Linked DNA regions of Homo sapiens: region 2 is linked to region 1. Evidence: fine-mapped expression QTL. A gene starts in region 1. The other region holds a variant in brackets. All regions are shown on one strand. Distances are from middle to middle. Region 1 holds the start of CTNS (cystinosin, lysosomal cystine transporter). Region 2 overlaps CTNS (cystinosin, lysosomal cystine transporter).

Evidence for each region.
Region 2: its variant is fine-mapped to the expression of CTNS in whole blood (TOPMed, PIP above 0.99).

Annotation. Positions count from the first base shown.
Region 1 is chr17:3,633,578-3,638,939 of GRCh38, reverse strand. It overlaps CTNS (cystinosin, lysosomal cystine transporter), which reads right to left and starts at 2,180. Exons shown (of 12, transcript NM_004937.3): 1 at 2,109-2,180; 2 at 1,624-1,833. SHPK (sedoheptulokinase) reads left to right here and starts at 2,690. Exons shown (of 7, transcript NM_013276.4): 1 at 2,690-2,888. The coding sequence starts at 2,721. LOC105371493 (a long non-coding RNA gene) reads left to right here. Exons shown (of 6, transcript XR_007065579.1): 6 at 1-443. RefSeq lists silencers at 1,815-1,904, 2,915-2,974 and enhancers at 2,185-2,434, 4,273-5,138.
Region 2 is chr17:3,658,857-3,664,218 of GRCh38, reverse strand. CTNS (cystinosin, lysosomal cystine transporter) reads right to left here. Exons shown (of 12, transcript NM_004937.3): 11 at 4,244-4,361; 12 at 1,116-3,983. The coding sequence ends at 3,850. It overlaps TAX1BP3 (Tax1 binding protein 3), which reads left to right. Exons shown (of 4, transcript NM_014604.4): 3 at 1-24; 4 at 334-1,324. The coding sequence ends at 471. It overlaps P2RX5-TAX1BP3 (P2RX5-TAX1BP3 readthrough (NMD candidate)), which reads left to right. Exons shown (of 15, transcript NR_037928.1): 14 at 1-24; 15 at 334-1,326. Among named protein-coding and RNA genes, the nearest start is that of TAX1BP3, 7.0 kb to the left of the region's middle. The variant AGT/T (reference allele first, on the strand shown) is at 2,675.

The DNA of each region.
Region 1 (5,362 bases):
CCTTCTCACCGGCCGGGAATGACCCCGTACCTACTCTCTGGCCTCCTCTGGGGGCCTTGCTCTTGGCGCTGGATCCCTGTGCTCTGTCCCCTGACCTTGGAGGAATTGCCCTCCTGCGTGTATGGAATGACCACAGGCCTCCCTCTCACTCTTGCTGCCCTCCGCTCCTCACACCTGCCCTGTGGCCTCAAGTTCAGGATTCAGTTTGTTGCCCAGGACAGAGTCTGGTTTTTCTCCAGAAATTAGATGCAGAATCAGGCCTAACCAGCTTCTCAAACTCACAGACTTGGTCAGCAAACATTCCCAAGCCTCAAAGGCTGAGACCCCTGGAGGAACGATGCCAGCAGAGACAAAACGACATTGAGAGGTAAGTCAATTAAAATGTTAAAAAACATCAGATTAGGCTGAGCGCAGTGGCTCGTGTGTGTAATTCCAGCACTTTGGGAGGCCGAGGCAGTTGGATCACTTGAAGTCAGGAGTTCGAGACCAGCCTGGCCAACATGGTGAATCCCCGTCTCTACTAAAAATACAAAAATTAGCCAGGCGTGGTGGCATGTGCCTGTAGTCCCAGCTACTCAGGAGGCTGAGGCAGGAGAATCGCTTGAACCCGGGAGGTGGAGGTTGCAGTGAGCCGAGATTGCACCATTGCACTCCAGCCTGAGTGATAAGAGTGAAACTCCGTCTCAAATTAAAAAAAAAAAACAAAAAAAAAACCAGATTGATAATTACATACAACTAGTGGCTTGTGAAAGCTACAAGATAGAAATGAAGTATCTCCTGACAATGGGCTCTGTCTGGCGTGCCCTTCCTATGTAAGTTCTAACTATTGTCCAGGCCTCATTCAGATGTCACATGTTTCAAGAAGGCTCCTCACCCATTCAGTCCCTTCCCAGGAGCAACCTGGGGCTAGGGGTCTAGTGTGGCAGCTCCTGTCTGCCAGGTATGAGTTGGTCCTGTCCTCTGTTCTACGACCTGGAACTCCCTGGGTCTCCTGCTTTTGGAGAGGGTACACAAATAGTGGCAAGGGCTGTGTGCACTGGAGACAGGCTTGACCTATTTATTACTTATGCGACCTTGTGGTGCCAAACAAGGAGGTGGTAACTACCTCACAGGACTTAAATGAGGAGATGTAAAGCACGCATTGTCAAGTGGGACTAAAATTGGCTGGGGGTAGGCTGGGCGCGGTGGCTCACGCCTGTCATCCCAGCACTTTGGGAGGCCGAGGTGAGCGCATCACCTGAGGTCAGGAGTTCGAGACCAGCCTGGCCAACATGGTGAATCCCCATCTCTACTAAAAATACAAAAATTAGCTGGGCATGGTGGCTCAGGCCTGTAGTCCCAGCTACTCGGAAGGCTGAGGTAGGAGAATCGCTTGAACCCCGGAGGCGGAGGTTGCAGTGAGCCGAGATCGCGCCACTGCACTCCAGCCTGGGTGACAGAGGCTGCAGACTCCATCTCAAAAAAAAAAAAAAAATTGGCTTGGGGTGGTAGTGAAGAAATCTAGCTATTACAATGGTTTGTGGCCACAGAAACAAATACACAGCGTACTAGTGGTATTAAATTTTATGGGAAGGGGGTAGGTAGGAATAACGAGGTTGAGAAACAAGGATATAAAGTGGTTACCTCTGTTGCTTAGGGCGCCTAGCGAGCTCTCACAAAACACAGTAATCCTCAATGTTACTGGAAGAGGCAGAGCTCAGGAGTCCTCCCTTCGCCCAGTGTGAAAACCCGGAGGGGAGGATGGGGTCTCGTGCTGCTCAGTCCCCCGGAGCCCCGCACTCCGCACGTCAACCGGCGCTCTCGCAAAGGTTCTCTCAGCGTCTCCAAAGCAATCTGCAAATTCCCCAACCGAGACCCAGGCGGCAACTGAGCAGAAGGTAAGGGGCTGGGAACGGCACCCACCCCGGCAGCCCGCTGCCCCTGCCTCGGCTGACCACCGCTCGGGCCCTTCCACCCGGGGGTTGTCCCGTGTCGCGAGGCCAGCACTGGTGGCGGGGAAAGGAGCCCGCCGCGGCTGAGGGCGCTGGACCCCCGGCAGGCTGCCCCGCTGACCTGCTGTGCCTCAAGGGGTCCGCCTGGGAAACAGGGGAGGCCGCGTCCGCTCTCACCTGAGCGCCCCCAGGCTCGAGGAACCGCCCTCACGGGACGCATGAGCCTCGCCAGGTGCCGGTCAGGAATGCACCGCGTTCCCCTGCCCGGCTAGACTTTGGGAGAGGCGGGTCCGCTGTCACCTGACCTCCGCCACCTGACTCGTGGGGCCGGATCTCGGCGAGATGAGCTCTGGGAGTTGTAGTTTCCGCGCGTCTTAGACGGACAGAGCGCAGCTGGGTCGGGCCGGGGCGCAGAGATCGGGGCTCCGGCGTGAGGGAAGATGAGGTCCGCTGCCAGGGACACAGAGACTCTTGGAGCCGCCAGCGCCTCCCGGCTCCTTTCGTGAGCGAAGCTCAGACCGCCCTCCATTGGGCGGAAATCAGAGCCCGTGGGGCGGGGCCCCCTTTAGGTCCCGCCTTCCGCCGCCTCTCCGCCTATAGCCGGGGCCCGCCGAGAGGTTGCGTGGAAGCTCGCCTTCCCCGGCCAGTGGGAAGACGAGAAGCCTCCATGTTGGGTGTGGCTGAAAGATTGGCAGGCGACTCCCCGCCCCTGCCCCGCCCCCCTGGGCGAAGAGCGCGGACTTGTGGGGCCGCTGGCTGCAGACTGGAGCTGCGCGGGTCAGGGAGATAATGGCTGCGCGGCCGATCACCCTCGGCATTGACCTGGGCACCACATCTGTGAAGGCAGCTCTGCTGAGGGCCGCGCCCGACGACCCATCCGGGTTCGCAGTGCTGGCGAGCTGTGCCCGTGCTGCGCGGGCAGAGGCGGCGGTCGAGAGCGCGGTGGCCGGGCCCCAGGTGAGTTGGACCCCCGGGGCCGCGCCGCCTCCAGGAGCCTCCTGACCACCCTTTTCCACCCCAGGAGGCCTCCCTGACAGCCCTTCCCGCAATGAAGTCTCTATTCCAGCTTGTCCCCAGCTTCTCCAGGGGCCCGTCTGCCTGCAGCAGCTGTGCTCATGATCCCTTAGGTCTGGTCCCAGAATCCTTCCCACCTGCTGGGACCGATTCCCCCCCGCCCCCTCCCCGACTCTCTGGCTTCTTCTGGGGGCCTTGCGCTTGGCGCTGGATCCCTGTGCTCTCTGTCCCCTGACCTTGGAGGAACTGATCTCTTGTGTGTATGGAATGACCACAGGCCTCCCTTTCACTCTTGCTGCTCTCCGCTCCTCACACCTGCCCTGTGACCTCAAGTTCAGGATTCAGTTTGTTGCCCAGGGCAGAGTCTGGGTTTTCCTCCGGAAATCAGATGTCAAATCAGGCCTAACTGGCTCCTGGCTCATTCCACAGAAGCAGAATGCGGACCAAGAAACCTTTGGTCAGCCGGGCGCGGTGGCTCACGCCTGTAATCCCAGCGCTTTGGGAGGCCGAGGCGGGCGGATCACGAGGTCAGGAGATCGAGACCATCCTGGCTAACACGGTGAAACCCCGTCTGTACTAAAAATACAAAAAATTAGCGGGGCGTGGTGGCGGGCGCCTGTAGTCCCAGCTACTCGGGAGGCTGAGGCAGGAGAATGGCGCGAACCCGGGAGGCGGAGCTTGCAGTGAGTCGAGATCGCTCCGTTGCACTCCAGCCTGGGTGACAGAGCGAGACTCCTTCCCTTCCTTCCCTTCCTTCCTTCCTTCCTTCCTTCCTTCCTTCCTTCCTTCCTTCCTTCCTTCATTCTTTCCTTTCTTTCTCTTTCTTACCAAGTCTCGCTCTGTTGCCCAGGCTGGAGTACAGTGGCGTGATCTGGGCTCACTGCAACCTCCGCCAACTGGATTCAAGTGATTCTCCTGCTTCAGCCTCCCGAGTAGCTGGGACTACAGGTGTGAGCCACCGCGCCCGGCTACTTTTTGTATTTTTAGTAGAGACAGGGTTTCGCCATGTTCGCCAGACTGGTCTTGAACTCCTGACCTCAAGTGATCTGCCCACTTCAGCCTCCCAAAGTGCTAGGATTACAGTTGTGAGTCACTGCGCCTGGCCCAGCTTTGTTTTTCACAAGCTCTTGCCACATACATGGACACGGTTGTTTAGGGTTCAGAGCCCATTTGGCTCAGAAGCATTTCTGAGGATAGGGATTTCAGGAGCACTTTGTATCTACATAGAAGCTTTCAAGATTAGTTTGGTTGGGACATTAGGGCATATTAAAAGGATTCTTACTTAAAGGACTATGAATTGGAGGCAAAGTTGGCTCTGACCCTGGTGGGGTGAGCAGGAGAGCTGGCATTAGGGGAGAGTAGGCTCAGAAAGTGCCAGTTTCTCCTGAAATAGAGCACTTCTTTTTTTTTTTTTTTTTTTTTTGAGACAGGGTCTCGCTCTGTCACCCAGGCTGGAGTGCAGTGGTGCAATCTCTGCTCACTGAAACCTCTGCCTCCCGGGTTCAAGTGATTTTCGTGCCTCAGTTTCCCGAGTAGCTGGGATTACAGGTGTGCGCCACCATGCTTGGAGAATTTTTTTGTATTTTTGGTAGAGATGGGGTTTCACCATGTTGGCAAGGCTGGTCTCAAACTCCTGACCTCAACTGATCTGCCTGCCTCGGTTTCCCAAAGTGCTGGGATTACAGGTGTGAGCCACCGCACCCAGCATGGCCACTTTTTTTTTTTTTTTAATTGATCACTCTTGGGTGTTTCTCGCAGAGGGGGATTTGGCAGGGTCATAGGACAATAGTGGAGGGAAGGACAGCAGATAAACAAGTGAACAAAGGTCTCTGGTTTTCCTAGGCAGAGGACCCTGCGGCCTTCCGCAGTGTTTGTGTCCCTGGGTACTTGAGATTAGGGAGTGGTGATGACTCTTAACGGGCATGCTGCCTTCAAGCATCTGTTTAACAAAGCACATCTTGCACCGCCCTTAATCCATTTAACCCTGAGTGGACACAGCACATGTTTGAGAGAGCACAGGGTTGGGGGTAAGGTCACAGATCAACAGGATCCCAAGGCAGAAGAATTTTTCTTAGTACGGAACAAAATGAAAAGTCTCCCATGTCTACTTCTTTCTACACAGACACAGCAACCATCCGATTTCTCAATCTTTTCCCCACCTTTCCCCCTTTTCTATTCCACAAAACCGCCATTGTCATCATGGCCCATTCTCAATGAGCTGTTGGGTACACTACCCAGACGGGGTGGTGGCCGGGCAGAGGGGCTCCTCACTTCCCAGTAGGGGCGGCAGCACGGCCACTTCTTGAAAACTTTTCTGCCCTCCCTCCCCAGCTTTCAGCAGGCTGTTCTGTGCTTACAGGCTCACCCAGTGTGTCACACCTATTTAATGAAGTGCTTAGCGGAGGCCAGTCATTAAC
Region 2 (5,362 bases), 25 kb before region 1:
CAGATTGGAGACAAGATCATGCAGGTAACAGGTGTCCCAAAGGAGGAGAAACAAGGTTTGGGCAAGCAGGTCTGAAGCACTTGGGGGTGGGGAGCTGCCCCAGCCTCCCAGCTGGGAGAGACTCACTGCAGCCAATTGGGAACCCATACTGGCATTGCCCCAGAGGACGCTGGCTTTCTCTCCTGTGTGTCTCAGCCACAGTGCTTGGTGTCTCCCAGCCCTGGGATGTTAGGCTGGGGGCCTACTTGAATGACCTGGGCCCCCAAAGCCCTCTGCTTCCAGATCCCAGAGGGCGGGGAGCTGAGGTGAGCCTGTGTTCTCTCCTGGGGCCAGGTGAACGGCTGGGACATGACCATGGTCACACACGACCAGGCCCGCAAGCGGCTCACCAAGCGCTCGGAGGAGGTGGTGCGTCTGCTGGTGACGCGGCAGTCGCTGCAGAAGGCCGTGCAGCAGTCCATGCTGTCCTAGCAGCCACCACCATCTGCGACTCCTGCCTGCCGCCTCTCTGTACAGTAACGCCACTTCCACACTCTGTCCCCATCTGGCTTCTGCTGACCGCTGGGCCCCAGCTCAGAAGGGCTATAGCTGGTCCCAGAGGCCTGGCCTGGCCTTCCTTCCCTTCTCCCATCCCTGGCCTGGGGCCTCTGGGACCGGCTTTCTCTCCTGGACACCGAGGATTGGAAATAAGGGCCTGGAGCTGAGTAGTAGCCAGTCTGCTGTGACCACAGGCTCAGGTCCGACCCTGCTGCTTGGCCACAGCAGTGGCTGGGCAAGTGGGAACCACTATCTCTTGGGAGCCCCCAAAAGCTGGGAAATGCTGGAGGAACCAGGCCTTTCCCGCTTTTGCCTGGCTGCAGGGTTCGGCTCCGCCCCTGCCCCCCAGCCCTCGTGTGTCCACACCGCAGTGCCTCTGCCCCTCGGGGGACTGGACACACATCCTGCCAGAGGCGCTACGAAGCTTTGCCCAGATGAAGCCAGGTGGGCTCCGCGTTCACTCCCACTCTCCCGAGGGGTGCTGGCCTCCCCAGGGTTTGCCTTCTTACGGATTTAGACGAGGTTCGAGGCTCACCTATCAGGGCAGCTCTCAGGATTGTCATTTTCCTCTTTGCCTGTGGGTTTAACTTTTGTATTTTTTTAATCACAAGTTTGATACAAAATGTTTTTATCGTACTCTTTGGAGATGCCCATTCTACTTTTGAATTTAGCTTTTACTAATTCGCATCTGGAAGCTCAGCAAGTGCACAAGCCTTACTTTGGTTACCGTGGAAACCACTGCCGCCCCTCCCCGATGTGGTGCGCTCAATAAAAATGCTGGAATTCACAGGGGGCTTTGCTGAGGCATGGGCTGGGATATCGGGGTGGGGGTGGCGGTGGGATATTGGGGCCAGAGCTGTGGTTTTAATGATGGCCCCATCCCCCACTGTTCTGGGACAAAGCTCAACTACTCCCAGGCCCACCTGCCTGAAAGCCCGGGGCTGGTGGAGCCGCAGCAGCTGCACTGCGCCTGACCAGAACCACATCTGTGGGAGTGTCTGGGAGCACTGGGGTGGGACCCTGGGGTGCGTGTGCTTTCTTGGGTGTTACTGTGAAGCCCCTACTTGCTCCCAACCTCCTTTTTGCAACCTAGCCTCAGCTCCCACCTGGGAGGGGCCGTAGGGACACCCAGAGGTGCCTGGGAGAGACCCCTGCCTATAAGACTCCCTGCCTATAAGGGCACTCCGTGTATCCCAGCGAGGGACACAACCCCACGTGTTGCTGGGGGCCGTGATCTGGCCAGATGGGGGTGAGTCAGAGAGCACCTGACTACCTGCGTACCACCTCTGGGAAGGTGTTAGCACTCCTGGACCTACCTAGCACTGCCAAATCAGATTTTAAAGAAAAGTCAATAATTTTTTTTTTTTTTTGAGATGGAGTTTCGTTCTTGTTGCCCAGGCTGGAGTGCAATGGCGTGATCTTCGCTCACTGCAACCTCCGCCTCCTGGGTTCAAGTAATTCTCCTGCCTCAGCCAACCAAGTAGCTGGGATTACAGGTGCCCGCCACCATGCCCAGCTAATTTTTGTATCTTTAGTAGAGATGGGGTTTTGCAATGTTGGCTAGGCTGGTCTCGAACTCCTGATGTCAGGTGATCCATCTGCCTTGGCCTCCCAAAGTGCTGGGATTACAGGCGTGAGCCACCGCACTCAGCCGGAAAAGTCAATCATTTGAAATCTCTGATTTTTAAAGTAGGGCACCCAGTAACACATTTACTGGGTGTTGCAAGTGAAACAGGTCTGTGGACCCCGTCAGGCCAAAGTCTGCTCTGCAGAAACAAGACCTGACATTCTTTGACGTTTGTTACAACTAGATAGAGGAAGCGTCTGGAGAATAAGACCCCCACTGCCCCCGCTCCCAGTGCTGGTGTGCCCTTCAGAACCTCATCCACCCCGGCTCACATCCAGATTGAGTGGCGTGCCCTGGTAACCGTGAAGACACGGAGCCTGGGAGACTGACCTGGCCCTGGGCGGGTAGGCGTCTCGCGCTACCCAAGAGGGCTCCCCAGTGAAGTGTGGGGTCAGCACGCAGCGCTCTCGGGTCAGTGACCTTCACAACCTTATGCGCTTCCTTACACGAGGGGAGCAGGGCACCTGGCTCTGAAGGCCAGCACACCTGCCTTCTGTATCGAGCACACAG[AGT/T]GCAGAAAGGAAGCGAGTAGGTTTTAATTCAAGATACAGGCCCCTCGCGTTGATCTCGTAGAAGGAAACTCAGTGGACTGACAAGCTCAAGTCATGTATGAGGCACGTCCTGGGACCCCCACCCCTCCTGCCATAGGAAGGACAGCTTTGGGCAGAGGGAAGGAGGTTTGAGATCAGGGTTGGGCCCATACAGATTGTGTGAGGTGGTCTCAAGTACAAATACTTATCTGAGGCTCCTGAACAGGCCAGAAATTGGTGAGTCTCAAGTAGGTGTCTGGGGAAAGAGAGGGAAGGGGCCTGCCCTCGCTCCAGGGGAGCTGGTCGCCGTTTGGCAGGCCTAACAGACCTCTAAGGCACAGACTGGTAGCAGGAGAGAGCTATGTCCTGTACTCCAGATGCTGGGTAAGGAGCAGCTGGATGTGCTCAGATGGGGCTAATCTGAGAAGGTGGAGGTAGGAGAGAGGGCAGAAGAGAGTAAGCCACTTCCAAACGTCCCTCCAAAAAATCTGAAAGGAGTTACTATGCTAATGCGCTGGGCATGAATCCAATTCAGAACCAATCTGGTGGGCCCCTCATGGCTCAGAAATACTCTGGGTAGGGCTGGCTGTTACTGCAGTCACGGACGCTGAGTTATGTACAGAGAGTACGTCAGGAAAGTGGCCTTCAGAGAAAGAGCCCCATGGCCTAACCCCAAAGTCCTAGCCCGTCCACCAGCACCTCTGAGTTCACTGGCCACGGCACCGGGCTGCTTGATCTCTGGGAATGCAGCGGTGGCAGCAAAGTGCCCTTGGCTCACCCGGCTGCAAGGTCAGCCCTTCAAGCTGCTTGCAGAAACGCTGGTAGTTTGGGGCAAGGCCTTCGGCTGCAAGCTTGGTGCCCAGTCCTGCCTGAGACGGCTGCCAGAGCCTGTGCGCGCTGCCTGAAGCCTTAAAGAAAAGAGATGGCGGTGTCAAGGCGACGGTGCCACGTGCCTGGCCGGGGAGGCCCAGGAGGGGCCCGGACGAAGGCAGGCTATTGAATGGCCTCTGGCCCCAGGAGCAGAGTGGTCTCCTCTGTCCGCACACTGAGCCAGCCCTGTGTGCCAGGGCCCAACCGCTTCTCCGGCCTTCGCTGGGTGAGGCCTTCCCCAGCAGGGCACGAGGCCAGAGGCTGGGTACACTGGGTCCCTGGGTGCTAGTTCAGCTGGTCATACCCCGGTCTCTTTCTGTACAAACAGAAGTGCTGGATGAAGAAGACGACGTCGAAGACGATGGAGAAGACCCCGAGTCCAAACTTGGTTGGGTCTCCGAAGATCAGCGTCCACTGGTCTGTTAGCAGCCGGGGGACAGAAGCTGGTGTTAGGTTGGCAGCTCCTGAGGCAGCTGGAGCTTGTGGGGTGGTGGGCGGTGGGGGTCCCAGAAAACCACAAAGCCTCCAGCTACGAAGGCCCCTAGGTGGGTCTCTCCTTGGGGGCTGGATTGGCTTGGATCCCAGGTGGGGGTGGAGCCCTGGCTGGAAGGTCCCGGGAAGGCTGGCCCCGCCCGATGCCCCAGCCGCAGGGTGGCCAGCAGCCCGCTGGCTGACTCACCGTTGTTGTAGGACTGGAGGAACATCTGCAGGAGGCTGAAGCTGCCCCCGGTGAAGTCCAGGAGCACGTTGCCAATGCTCCAGCCCTCAGTGCTTTTGTAGTAAAAGTTCATGTAGGCCTGGGCCAGACAGACGGACAGACAGACGGAGGGCGGTGAGGGCTGGGCGGCTGCCTCATGCGCCTCGTGACTGCCCCTCCAAACAAAAGCGGTTCTCATTCCTCCCACTGGGGCCTTGGCTCCAAGGACACGGTGACCTTTGGGCTATGACAGGCCTCAGCCAAGGAACAGTTTGGGTGGTCCTGGGGGTAGGCGTCTCATCTGCATGTACAGCAAGCAAAGGCCCCGCACCCCCCACACCTCACAGCTCCAGCAGAGGCGGGGCCGATGCGGCCTTCCCCGTCTCCTCCACATCCCTGGGGCCAAGGCCCTGTGCTAGTTTCCCTGTAGCTATGATTCTTCTTCTCACCTCCAGGCAAGGCTGTCCCCAAACTCAGCCTGGACTTCATGTGCTTAGGGACTGGTGGGAGTGGGACTTCTGGTTTGGAATCCTGGCTCCATCACCGGAGCCTGCTGTCTTGGGCAAGTGACAGTTCTCCTAGCCTTGGTTTCCCCGTCTGTAGAGCGGGGTTAACGCCCCCCACAGGCCTGGCCGGGGCTTCCTGGGTCTGGTTGGGGGGGCGGGTCTGCGGGGATGCGCCCCAGTCTGACTGCCTGTGCCCCACGTCCTCCCATGCTGCAGAGCCCTGTGGGTCCTCTGACTGCTGTGACCTTTCCTTCCCCCCGTGAGGCAGGTCCTGGCCTCTCTGGTGGCCTCCCAGTGAGCCTCTAGTCAGTCCCTGTCTGTGTCCCGGCTCACCCTCTTCCGTACTTGCTGCTGCCCCTCCAGCAGTTCCAAACGTCTCCAACCTGGGCTCCTCCATCCCCGGTTTCTTGGCCCCAATCCCTCCCACCCTCAGGGACTGGGGCCCACTTCCCCAAACCTTCCCCTCCTCGGAAGCCCCCCCCAGCTCCCGGGACCTGACCCCAGCTTCCCAGCTTCAACATGCTCAACACTGTTCAACCAGCCACATCCCCTCACTGCCGCCCCGTGTCCCGCCCCAGCCTCTGTGCAGGCTGGC